Linked DNA regions of Homo sapiens. The protein of the gene in region 1 purifies or fractionates together with the protein of each later gene. This does not show direct contact. Each region holds a gene or a part of one and is shown on either strand. Other genes may lie near its edges.

Evidence for each region.
Region 2: the proteins of SEC31A (region 1) and NOP14 purify together in Homo sapiens (affinity purification with mass spectrometry; 3 studies listed by BioGRID and IntAct, with this or other methods). This does not show direct contact.
Region 3: the proteins of SEC31A (region 1) and SEC23IP purify together in Homo sapiens (affinity purification with mass spectrometry; 3 studies listed by BioGRID and IntAct, with this or other methods). This does not show direct contact.

The regions. Positions count from the first base shown.
Region 1 is NC_000004.12:82,884,550-82,888,300, forward strand, and holds part of SEC31A (protein transport protein Sec31A), read right to left. Parts: intron 1-3,751. UniProt on the Homo sapiens protein: Component of the coat protein complex II (COPII) which promotes the formation of transport vesicles from the endoplasmic reticulum (ER).
Region 2 is NC_000004.12:2,961,355-2,965,105, reverse strand, and holds the start of NOP14 (nucleolar protein 14), read left to right. Parts: upstream 1-1,699; 5' UTR 1,700-1,786; coding exon 1,787-1,981; intron 1,982-3,751. Other genes in the region: GRK4 (G protein-coupled receptor kinase 4), read right to left, coding at 984-1,035. UniProt on the Homo sapiens protein: Involved in nucleolar processing of pre-18S ribosomal RNA. Has a role in the nuclear export of 40S pre-ribosomal subunit to the cytoplasm.
Region 3 is NC_000010.11:119,902,591-119,906,341, reverse strand, and holds part of SEC23IP (SEC23-interacting protein), read right to left. Parts: intron 3,544-3,751; coding exon 3,333-3,543; intron 2,259-3,332; coding exon 2,065-2,258; intron 1-2,064. UniProt on the Homo sapiens protein: Plays a role in the organization of endoplasmic reticulum exit sites. Specifically binds to phosphatidylinositol 3-phosphate (PI(3)P), phosphatidylinositol 4-phosphate (PI(4)P) and phosphatidylinositol 5-phosphate (PI(5)P).

The DNA.
Region 1 (3,751 bases):
ATGAACACATCATTATCACTGAAACTCCACAATTTATATGAGGGCTCACTCTAGGTGTTGTATATTCTATGGGTTTTGACAAATGTATAACAACATGTATCTGTCATTATAGTATCACACAGAGTAGTTCCCTTGTCCTAAAATCCCCTATGCCTATAATTCCTCCTTTCCTTTCAATAGAGCCTATATAGTGAATTTTTGTGAATTGTTCTTGGGACCTAGAAAGAAGGGGTGCTCTCTGTTTTCAGGGCCTAGAGCTCAATATATATTAACTAAGTCCTCTTTATTGATTTGTTTAGATCTCCTATATCCTTACTTTTTTGTCCACTTGATCTGCCTTGGACCGAAACAGTGAATTAAGTCTCTTACTGCTAATATATTTATGTCAATTTCTCATGGTATCTCCTGAAACTTTTGCTTTATGAAAATTACTTTGTTATTTAATAGTTATTTGGTGCATATCCATAATGTTCAAATTCACTGTCAAATATACACTTTAGCTTTATGAATATCCTTCTTTGTCTCAAATAATGACTTTTGGTCTGAATTCCACCTCTTGTTTGCCTTTACATGTATACTTTTGCCCTTCAGAACTACTTTGTCATCATTACAAACAAAATAACAAACAAAAAACCAACAGATTTTACTGGTGATCCAATTTGAAAATCTTTTCACAGTAGGTTAGCTAAGGACATTTAAAATGTATTGACATGACAGACATGGTTGGTCTTAGTTTTACCATATTTTACTTTGGTTTAATATCTTTGGGTAATAATTTTTAAAAAGTCTTTCATTGTCTGTTTTCTTTTTTGTGCAATTACCATTTTTCTGATAATTAGGATGATGTATATTTTCATTATAATATGTGTTTCTGATTCTATCTTTTTAACTGTAATTTTAAATATTTTACTTAATACCATTAATCCTCTATTTCTTTACACAGAAACTATTAACTCCCTACTATGAGCACTTATGAAATTAGCTTGTATAATCTTACTGCCCATCCACACAACATGGTTATAGTCAATAGTATTATCTTTCTCAGTGTTTACCTTTGAACTCCTTATACTTCTACTAACTGATCTGTCAGCTTTAAATGATGTCCTTTGACTCATAGCCATTACAGATGTGGCAATTCACAAACTTATTCTACCTCCAATTTCTTTCCTCTTCTCTTTTTATTAGTTGTATAATCAATCCCTTACATTATTGGACATTTAACATTTACATTTTATTCTTTCTTCCTCATTCTCACTTTTGTTCCAGTCTCAGTCCTGCAGTTAAAATGCATACTCAATGCTCTCCAAGAGTATTTTTGCCAGTTTCCTTACTCAGCTCCAGAGTTTATCCTCTAACATTTTCCTTAAGATTGCCTTAAACATATGCTCCGAGTCTTGTACCTGCAAATTGTTTATATTTGAAGGAGATTTTATAGAGGAAAAAATTAAGACACAGAAAGTTAGACAATCTGTACATGCTAGCAAGGGGGCAAGGGGCAGAGCCAAGATTGGAACTTGCAAGTTTAGCTCCAGAGTTCTTTCTACTTCCAACAAGTTCAGGTATTCAATTTTTATATCATAGAGGAAATATTAACATTTAGAAGAAACAATAACAAAGCAACCAGCATGCATGATGAAACTGAAGAAATGCATTTTAGAAATTGTGTTAGGTTAGAGCAAAGTGAGATTAGGAGGCAGGATGTATCACATGGTTAAAAGCATGGTCTCTGGAGTTAATCCTCAATTTAACTACTGGCTCTGTTACTTATTAGCTATGATACTTTGGACACATTATTTAACCTCCCTGAGCCCCAGTTTCTACATTCGTAAAATAGGGAAAAGAGTGACAACCTCATGGGATGCTGTGAGGTTCCAATGAGATCATACGTTTTATAATAGGGAGCCAAAAAAAGTGCTCAGCACATGGGTTAGTGCTTTTGATAGGTTTGCTATTTTTAAAGATTACCACTATCATGAGATTAAACAAGAAAACTTCAGGGTTATTTGGGGGGAAAAATTCCAACTTTCTAAGATATAAAAAAGGCATTTATTTTCTTACATGAATCTCCTCTTCTTCCTCTTTGCCAACTGTCTCACCTGATCTTTAATAATAAATTCAAGTTCCAGCTCCTCCATGAAAACTGCCCTGATGATTCAATCCACATTGATCTAAATACTCCCCGACAAGTTTGTACTTGTCAATACTATGATTTAAGCATTTTATAATAACGTCATTATATTTTAATAAACATTTTGTAACATTCTACTAGCACATATTGTTTACATATTTTCCAATTACCTTTTTTTAACCAGTTGCCTTATGTGCTATCTTATCTCACCAACTAGACAAATAACGTCTTTTTTCAAAACTTTTACCCCTTTTTAGACTCAAAATTGCTTAGCACAGAAGGAGATATACAGAAAGTTTTGATTTATTTTAAATGTTTATATTTAGGGGAAAACAAGTAGACTAATGAGCTAGAGTGACCAGTTTCAGATAAAACATTTACTTTTAAATTCTTAACTCTTTAAAGGATCATTTACTTTTTAAAAAAGGAGAAAGTATGGTTAAGGGGGAAAAGGTTATAAGATGCCTTCAGAATAATTTCTAAAAGTGAAATCAAAATAGCTGTATTATTAAAAAAATGGAATACAATTATAGTATTTCTAAGACCTAAGTACAAGGACTACCTAATTCATTAATGCTTGGTTAATGTGTAACATTGACTGAAAAAGAAAGAGACACATTTATAAGAACATAAAATAGTTAAATGTGAATTCAAAGCATTTACTAAAGTTTATTTCTTAGCCTTAGTACTCAATGTTCTAAGAAAACATTGAGAAAAGAAAAGAAAAGAAAAGAAAAAAGAAAGGAAAAGAAAATTGTGTGGGCTTGTTCATACATGCCATCTCCAAGACAGTATCTATAGCACGGCAATTAAGAGCATGGGGTCTAGGGCAGACACCCTCAGTTTAAATTCCAGCTTCACTATGTCCACCTCTGACTTTAATCATGTCGCTTTATCCATGTATGTCCTGGCTCCTCTCTCATTAAAATAAGGAGAACAGTATCTATACTACAGGGTTGTTGTGAGAAATAAGTGGTATTACTCAGAGTGGTTAGAACAGTGCCTGGCATATATAAACAAATGCTCATAAATGACAGTTATTACAAACATCACTACTTAAAACGTCTACCACCACGAAACTTCAAAAATACATCTATTAGGCCGGGCGCGGTGGCTCACGCCTGTAATCCCAGCACTTTGGGAGGTCGAGGCGGGCGGATCACGAGGTCAGGAGATCGAGACCACGGTGAAACCCCGTCTCTACTAAAAATACAAAAAATTAGCCGGGCGCAGTGGCGGGCGCCTGTAGTCCCAGCTACTCGGGAGGCTGAGGCAGGAGAATGGCGTGAACCCGGGAGGCAGAGCTTGCAGTAAGCTGAGATCATGCGACTGCACTCCAGCCTGGGTGACAGAGCAAGACTCTGTCTCAAAACAAACAAACAAACAAACAAACAACAACAAAAAAAACATCTATTAGCCAGGCGCAGTGGCTCATGCCTGTAATCCCAGCACTTTGGGAGGCCGAGGTGGGCAGATCACTTGAGGCCGGAAGTTCGGGACCAGCCTGGCCAACATGGCGAAACCCCGTCTCCACTAAAAAATACAAAAACTAGCCGGGCGTGGTGGTGTGTACCTGTAATCCCAGCTACTCAGGAGGCCGAGGCAGAAGAATCGCTTGAACCC
Region 2 (3,751 bases), about 80 Mb from region 1:
ACAAAGGCAGTTAATCATATAATGACAGGTCACATAATCTATAGCATAACTGATGACTTGGCATAACTTGTGGCCTTGCATAGCTGGTGGCCTTGTAGCTGCGTTGAAAGAAAAAACCAAGAACTGGCTAAACACAGATATTTGTCCTCTTTTTTTTTTTTCTTCACCCCTGCTCTGGAAGGGGGGTGTCTGGAGCCTATTCCTTTGGATTCGACTTCTCAAACAGAACAGCGTTATCTTATAACTGTCCTTAAAGTGAGCTTGCTAAGCAAAAGAAAACTTGTTCTTCTTTTCTTTTTAACCCTTGCCTTGCCACATTCTGGGCCTTGGCTTTTTCTTTTCTTGGAGTGAATGAATGCAGTACTTATTACTATTTTTAAATTTCTGCCTCACTTTAATAATGATAAAAGGCTGAATTTTTGCCAACTTGTCCATCTGTGACCACGTCGTGCTAAAGCACACTTGACACACCATAGAGCCTCAGATCAAACCTCAAAACCAAGCAGCTATGTTAAAAATAACATTGCCCTACAATCATTATCGGAAGGTTCTCGCCCAGAGTAGTTCCCAGGCTGCTATTCTTTGTCCCCCTTAAGACCATAAAGACGCCGTTCTTTTTTGGTGGGACAGGTTGTCCAACACAAGCAGGACACTGCCTGCCGCATCCTGAAGCAACACTGTCACCGAGGTCACACCGAGAGGACAGGACAAGGACACAGGGCAAGACTAAGAAGAGCAAAGCGCAGACTTCTCTCATCTGGGCCAGGAGATGGGGACTGGGACCTGGCCCGGGCAGCCTGACCACACTGCACAGACCCCGGCTCCGGCTCCGTGCAGATCTGGGTTCCCCCAGTGGGAGGTGTCGGGGCTCTCCAGGGAAATCGGGGTTCTCCGGGGATGTCGGGTTCCTTCAGGGGGGCCAGGGTTCCCCGGGATTCGGGGTTCTCTGGGGGGGGGGTCGGGGGCGCCTGCCGCGCACCCACCTTGACGCGCTTTCAGCAGCAGCGAGTTGGCCACGATGTTCTCGAGCTCCATGTCCTGGCGCCGCCGCCGCCGGCGGATTCTGCGAGACCGAGGAGACTGAGGAGGCGGAACAGGAGGAGACGCCGCCGCCCCCGTGCATAGCTCGCCGGGCACCACCCTCTCCTCGAGCTCCGGACACGATCCCGGGAGGCTGCTCCGCCGCCACCACTGCCACCAAGGGCGCCGCCGCCGCCGCCTCCGCAGGCCCTCACCAGCAGGGGAGCGGTCGGGGCGAGGGGAGGGGGCAGCCCGACCGCGGCGGGTCCCAGCTGTCACCGCTGCCGCGCTATCGCCCCGGTTCTTCTTGGCCCCATCGCCCTCGCCTCGCGCGCGCAACTCCCTCCTCAGTGCCCTGCCCCCGGGCAGCCCCGAGTCAATGCCGTGGCTCACTTCGGACAGGGGCTCACTGGCAGGGGCGCCCGCCGCGGCCGGCGACCCGCTCCCGGGCGGGCTCGGCGCTAACGGCTTAGCTGAAGAGGGAGCGCCCCTCGCCGCCGCGGCCGGGGCACTACAGCTCCCAGAAGGCCCTGCGCCAAGAGTACACGGCGGGCCGCGGCGCGTGGCCTGCTGGGAGTTGTAGTCGCTGAGCCTATCGGCGAGTAAGCCGAGCCTGCGGGCGCGGTGTTTACTTCTCGCGAGTCGGAGGTGCTGCGCTGTTCTCGCGAGACGAGGAAGCGGTTCCGCGGCCCGGCACGTGTCTTAGGGTAGCGCGCGCCTGTCTCTCTTCGGGTCTCGGGCCCTTGGGCGCAGCGGGGCGCGCGCCATGGCGAAGGCGAAGAAGGTCGGGGCGCGAAGGAAGGCCTCCGGGGCGCCGGCGGGAGCGCGAGGGGGCCCGGCGAAGGCCAACTCCAATCCGTTCGAGGTGAAAGTTAACAGGCAGAAGTTCCAGATCCTGGGCCGGAAGACGCGCCACGACGTGGGACTGCCCGGGGTGTCTCGCGCACGGGCCCTCAGGAAGGTAAGCGGGGGGCGCACGGGGAGCCGGAAGGCAGGATCTGGACCCCACGCTGCTCTCGGCCGGCTGCGTCCTTCTCGGTGCGTCGGTTTCCTCGTTGAGCGGCACAGGCCGTGACAGGCACACGGCACTGACTTGATAGTCCGAAAGCCTCTGCTGTTCTCTGAGCTGGAGTGACCTGGAAACTCTCGCCGTCTTGGAGACCCTGCACTCGTGTTATTTCGGCGACTCCTCCAACCGGGTCAGGCCGAGTCAGTCACTTCGGGCGGCGCCCTGGACCAAGCTGCTTGTTAACCCTTCCGCGTTTACTTTGAGCTCTGCAGGTTTGGGGACGGTGGATAGGGGCTGTGTAGGATGCTGCGTTTGATGTTTCATCGGCTCTCTCCCGAAGCGCGTAACCTTGTTCCTTGGGAAGTAACTCTATGGAAACTCATTGCTTCCTAGTTTTTTTAACTTTTTTTTTTTTAAATTTTCACTGAGGAACATACATTAGCAGGTTGGTGAAAAAATTAAGGCACAGAAAGGACAAGTGCATTTCCTAAGGTCACGCACCTGGTAAGGGCTGGGCATGCATTCACATTTCAATATCTACAAAGCCTTCTTGCTACCCCGAGCGCTTCTGTTTGACCTCGCTTCTAGGTTCGGGGAGATAAAGGTAAATAAGACTTGCCCTTGCCTTCATGAGCTCCTGATCTCTGTTCATCACAGTGTGCAAGCTGGATGGTCTTTGAATCAAAACACATATTATCCTTACTGCGCGAAGACGACAGCCTGTATAATGAATAGGCAAGATAGACTTACAGCTGACTTCGATAGGAGTCCCTCATTACACACCCCCGGGCCGGGGTGGGAGAATAAGGTAGTGTGGTTCCCTAGAAGAGACACATTTGTCTTCACCACTGAAGCCTCAGTTTTCTCATTTCAAAAGTAGAGATGATAGTATACATCCTACCCCTCGTGGTGGTTTGTGAGAATTAAGTAAGATAGCACATAGAGCACACAGCAAGTGTTCTCTAAATACTGTTATTCTTAACCTTCTTGGCTTGTCGTTCGAGTCCCGCACAGTCTGGCTGTTGTCCTTGCTTCGCCTCTTGCAACTCAGTTTGTCCAAAAGGTCTGCCTTACCTCCGAAAGTCTCTAAAGGGCCAGCTCAGGTTCACCACCCAAGCTATGTAACCCAAATAGGACAGGTTGCTCAAACTTCTGGTATTGAGCAGATCCACCTCCCTGCCCTGTGCTGAAGGCCTGGGACGGGGACGGGAATTGCTGCTCCTTTTTGGATCTCCAATGCTTGGCCCTTGGAAGAAACACAAATATTTGAAGAAATCAAAGATGGAACCTGAGTGCCTTAGGAGATCCCGGTCAGGAAAAAGTGTAATAGTTAGGAAAGTCCAAAAATTCTTCTAGAGGGAGTTACAGTCAAGTTTTGCAAGGGGAGTGAGCTGTTCATGGGCCCAGGGTGGGCAGAGGACACACATGCAAAGGCACATTGTCCCGGTATGGTGAAGTGTGGCACTCACAGCTGTCTGAGGGACAGCAGGTCGTCCAGTTGACTCCAAGCTTGATAACGCGTGTAGGGGCCGTGAGGCCGGCGCAGGAGGCCTGGGTCTTTTCATGTGGGTTAGTCCCTTAGAAGTAAACAGGCTGCCTCAGTTGGCTTCTCCCCTCTGGTCAGTTGTAGCACTCTGAGGCACTCAGTCTGGCAGGAAGAGGGCAGCCCCCAGGTGCCAGTCTCAGGACATTGCTTTATAGCTGTGCCTCAGTTTCCTTATT
Region 3 (3,751 bases), on another chromosome or scaffold:
ATGATAGTGCCTACATGAACATAATGTTTAGCTCCGTTTCTTTTTTTTTTTTTTTTTTCTGAGACAAGGTCTTGCTCTGTTGCCCAGGCTAAAGTGCTGTGACACGATCACAGTTCACTGCAGCCTCAAGATCCCAGGCTCAAGCAATCCTACTGCCTCTGCCTCCTGAGTAGCTAAGACCACAGGCATGGGCCACCATGCCCAGCTAATTTTTTTGTGTGTATTTTTTGTAGAGACGGGGTTTTTCCATGTTGTCCAGGCTGGTCTGGAACTCCTGAGCTGAAGCAACCCACCCACCTTGGCCTCCCAGAGTGCTGGGATTACAGGCAGGAGCCACCACGCCCAGCCTAGCTCCATTTCTTGAGGTCACCTTTTACGTTCTTCAGTGTTCCATAAAGTTTACCGGTACTTTTCTTGGGCTTTTTTCCTACATTGCCTGTAGTTTTATAAATATATAGTCTCTCTGTTATAAATACATAGTATCTTCTTTTTCTATTTTTAATTGGTTATTTCTATGGCACAGGAATGTTACTAATTTACGTATGTTAATTTTATATACACGGACTTGCAAAAAAACTCTTGTATTGGTGCTAATATTTCTAGAGGTTCTCCTGATTTTCCACGTAGACAATAATCATGTCTTCATCAAATTAAAGGTGTTCTCTGTCTCCAACCCTTCCGTTGTTTTGTCTTAGTGCTCTGACAGAAGAGGATCACCAACAGGATGCTGAGCAATACGTATCATTTTGTTCCCTTTCTATTATCGGCTTTCTCACTTCCTAACCTCCTCTGCCTCTTCCCTGATCTGGTTTGAGTTTCCTGGAAGAAGCCGAACAAAAGCTAAGGTCTCCCTAGGTAGCCATGTGTTGCTGCAGTGGTCAGTATGTGGATATCTATCCCGCTTCAAAGTCTATGTCACCCATATAAAATCAAATATAGTTAAGAGAAAGTGTAGACTTTCAGACACTGCTTGGACTTGAAAATATATACTTCAGCTTCAAAATAGTAAAACTAAACATTTAATCTGGGGACATGATAGCTTCGTAGGGGCCTACCAAAAAGGTACCAAAAATTACAATATATCTTTATTTGTTTATTTATATCTAAAATTAAGCTATAGATATCAGCATTCCTTTACACTTTTTTCTTTATATATATACACACACACATATATGCACATATACAAATATATACTTTTTTTTTTTCTGAGGAAGGGTCTCATTCCCATTGCCCAGGCTGGAGTGCAGTGGCATGATCTCAGCTCCCTGCAGCCTCAACTTCCCTGGCACAGGTGATCCTTCCTCTTCAGCCTCCCGAGTAGCTCGGACTACTAGCGTGTGCCACCACGCCTGGCTAGTTTTTGTATTTTTAGTAGAGACATGGTTTCGCCATGTTGGTCAGGCTGGTCTCAAAACTCCTGGCCTCAAGTGATCTGCTCACCTAGGCCTCCCATAGTGCTGGGATTATAGGCACGAGCCACCACACCCAGCCAGAAGTTAACTAAAATGTTCTGTATCTCATTTCCTATCTATGCAACTGAATTCACTGAACGTATTTCAAATATCTAACATTCAACTCTTAAGTAGAATTAACACAAGCATTTAACACAATTATATAAAACAACATATAATTTCTTGAAGAAATTATAGATTTAAGATGGCTAATAAGACTCAAGACACTTCTTCCAATTCTATTTATTTATTTTCACAAATCAGAGGTTAATTTCAAGCCTTTTACTGAATACTAATTTGAAAATGTCCATATGCTTGGCATCTTCTATCAACAACAAATCCCAGCGGCCTAGGTTCTATTGAAGGCTTGACACAAGCACCTTATTAGATCTGTGATGTGTCTCTGCAAATCATATTCTATCTTTAGACACAGATGCCACGATTAGCACCTCATGAGTGATGACACCACTTAAAAAGTAATCTTCTCTGTGAACAGCATCAAAACAAGCTGTCTTGTAAGTAAAGTCCGCTCCACTGTGAATGATGTTACTCACCAATGTATATAGGACCTACATTTTTTAAAGAAACTCATAAAGAAATAAAGCACCCGTACCTCTAGTTTTTCACTGAACTCCTCAGTATAGGGAATAAATCGACTATCTGTGTCCCCCTTGTAAAACCAAGTACAGCGTCTCACTTCGGCTGGCTCCTCTTCCCAGTAGGCAGCCTTCCTTATTCGGTCATAGAGGTAAACATCGTAGCGCCCTCCATCCGTGCCAAGAACCACGCTCTCCGGATCTGGCTGAACTAGAGAACAAAATTAACACTTTTCCTAACTGCTGCAAGGCATATTGTAAAATAATAAATAATCTGCTGGGCGCAGTGGCTCATGCCTGTAATCCCAGCACCCTGGGAGGCCGAGAGAGGTGGATCACTTGCGGTCAGGAGTTTGAGACCAGCCTGGCCAATGGTGAAACCTCCCTGTCTACTAAAAATACAACAATTAGCCAGGCGTGGTGGCACACGCCTATAATCCCAGCTACTTGGGAGGCTGAGGCATAGTAGTTTGAACCCAAGAAGCAGAGGTTGCAGTGAGTCCAGATTGCGCTACTGCTCTCCAGCCTGGGCAGCAGAGTGAGACTCTGTCTCAAGAAAATAAAAATGAAATAATAAATAATGAATACGGTGACTACTCAATCTTTAAAGACAAAAAACTAGGCTCATTTTTATTTCAAAATAGAAGTTTAAGATTAATCTGTGCTGCTCAAAATTATGACTCTTAAGTAGAAAAGAAACAGCTAGGGCAAACTTTAAAAACATAATTCAAAGAACTGATGGATTTTTTTTATCAGAACAATAATATCTACATACAATAATACAGTGATATAATAATATATCAGGATAAACAAAGAAACACATTTCTACACTGCAGGACTTCTCAAAGCATTAATGTACTCCTGCACACCATCTCTCTCAAGACCTAGATACAGAGAGCAGCATTTCCAAAACTCATCTGACCAGGGAACCCTTTTTTCACAGAGCATCTCCAGGATAGAGAGTTCCACAGAATGCCCTTTATAAATGCCCCCATAACTACAAATGAACAAGGGAAACAGAAAAATTGAAACCTGGATTATATGAACTGCTCAACTTCTCTGATTCAAAATACCTTTAAACTACGAAGTAAATTACTAAAACATTTCTTCAAATACCTTACCCAGGTAACTCAGGACTTATACTAATATCGTCACCTTAAGGTACAGAGTCTGGGGTCTATAAGGATTAAGGTATTTGACATTCACAGAAAATAGATCATGAATAAATGATCTCATTCCTTCTCTTCCTAAAATCAGATATGAATGATGTATGACCAATGTTTACCTGAATTATAGATTTCTTCAAGATTCAAAGAGTCGAACACACTAAAAGGCATCCACAGTTGTTTGTATTCTACCTCCTTGCAGTAAAACCAGTGGGGCTGAACAGGCTCATATTGGTTTTGAAGTAGAAAAGGAGATGGCACTTGAACAGAGGGAGCCCCAGGTCTGGCAGGTACCTGCTGCTGTGCCGGTGACTGCACTGAAGAAGGAACCTGGAGGGGACGGCAAAGTTAAGACTGTCATGCTTGTCCAAAAGAATTCTGAATATGCTTCACACCCAAACTGATGTTAGTAGATTATCCTACATGTATATCTGGACAATTACTTAGTGTAATAACTAGACCCCAAAGCAATTTTAAGAAGAATTTTTAAACCTAACAAAACCCCAAATCAAGGATAAATGCTTGAGGTGAGGGATAT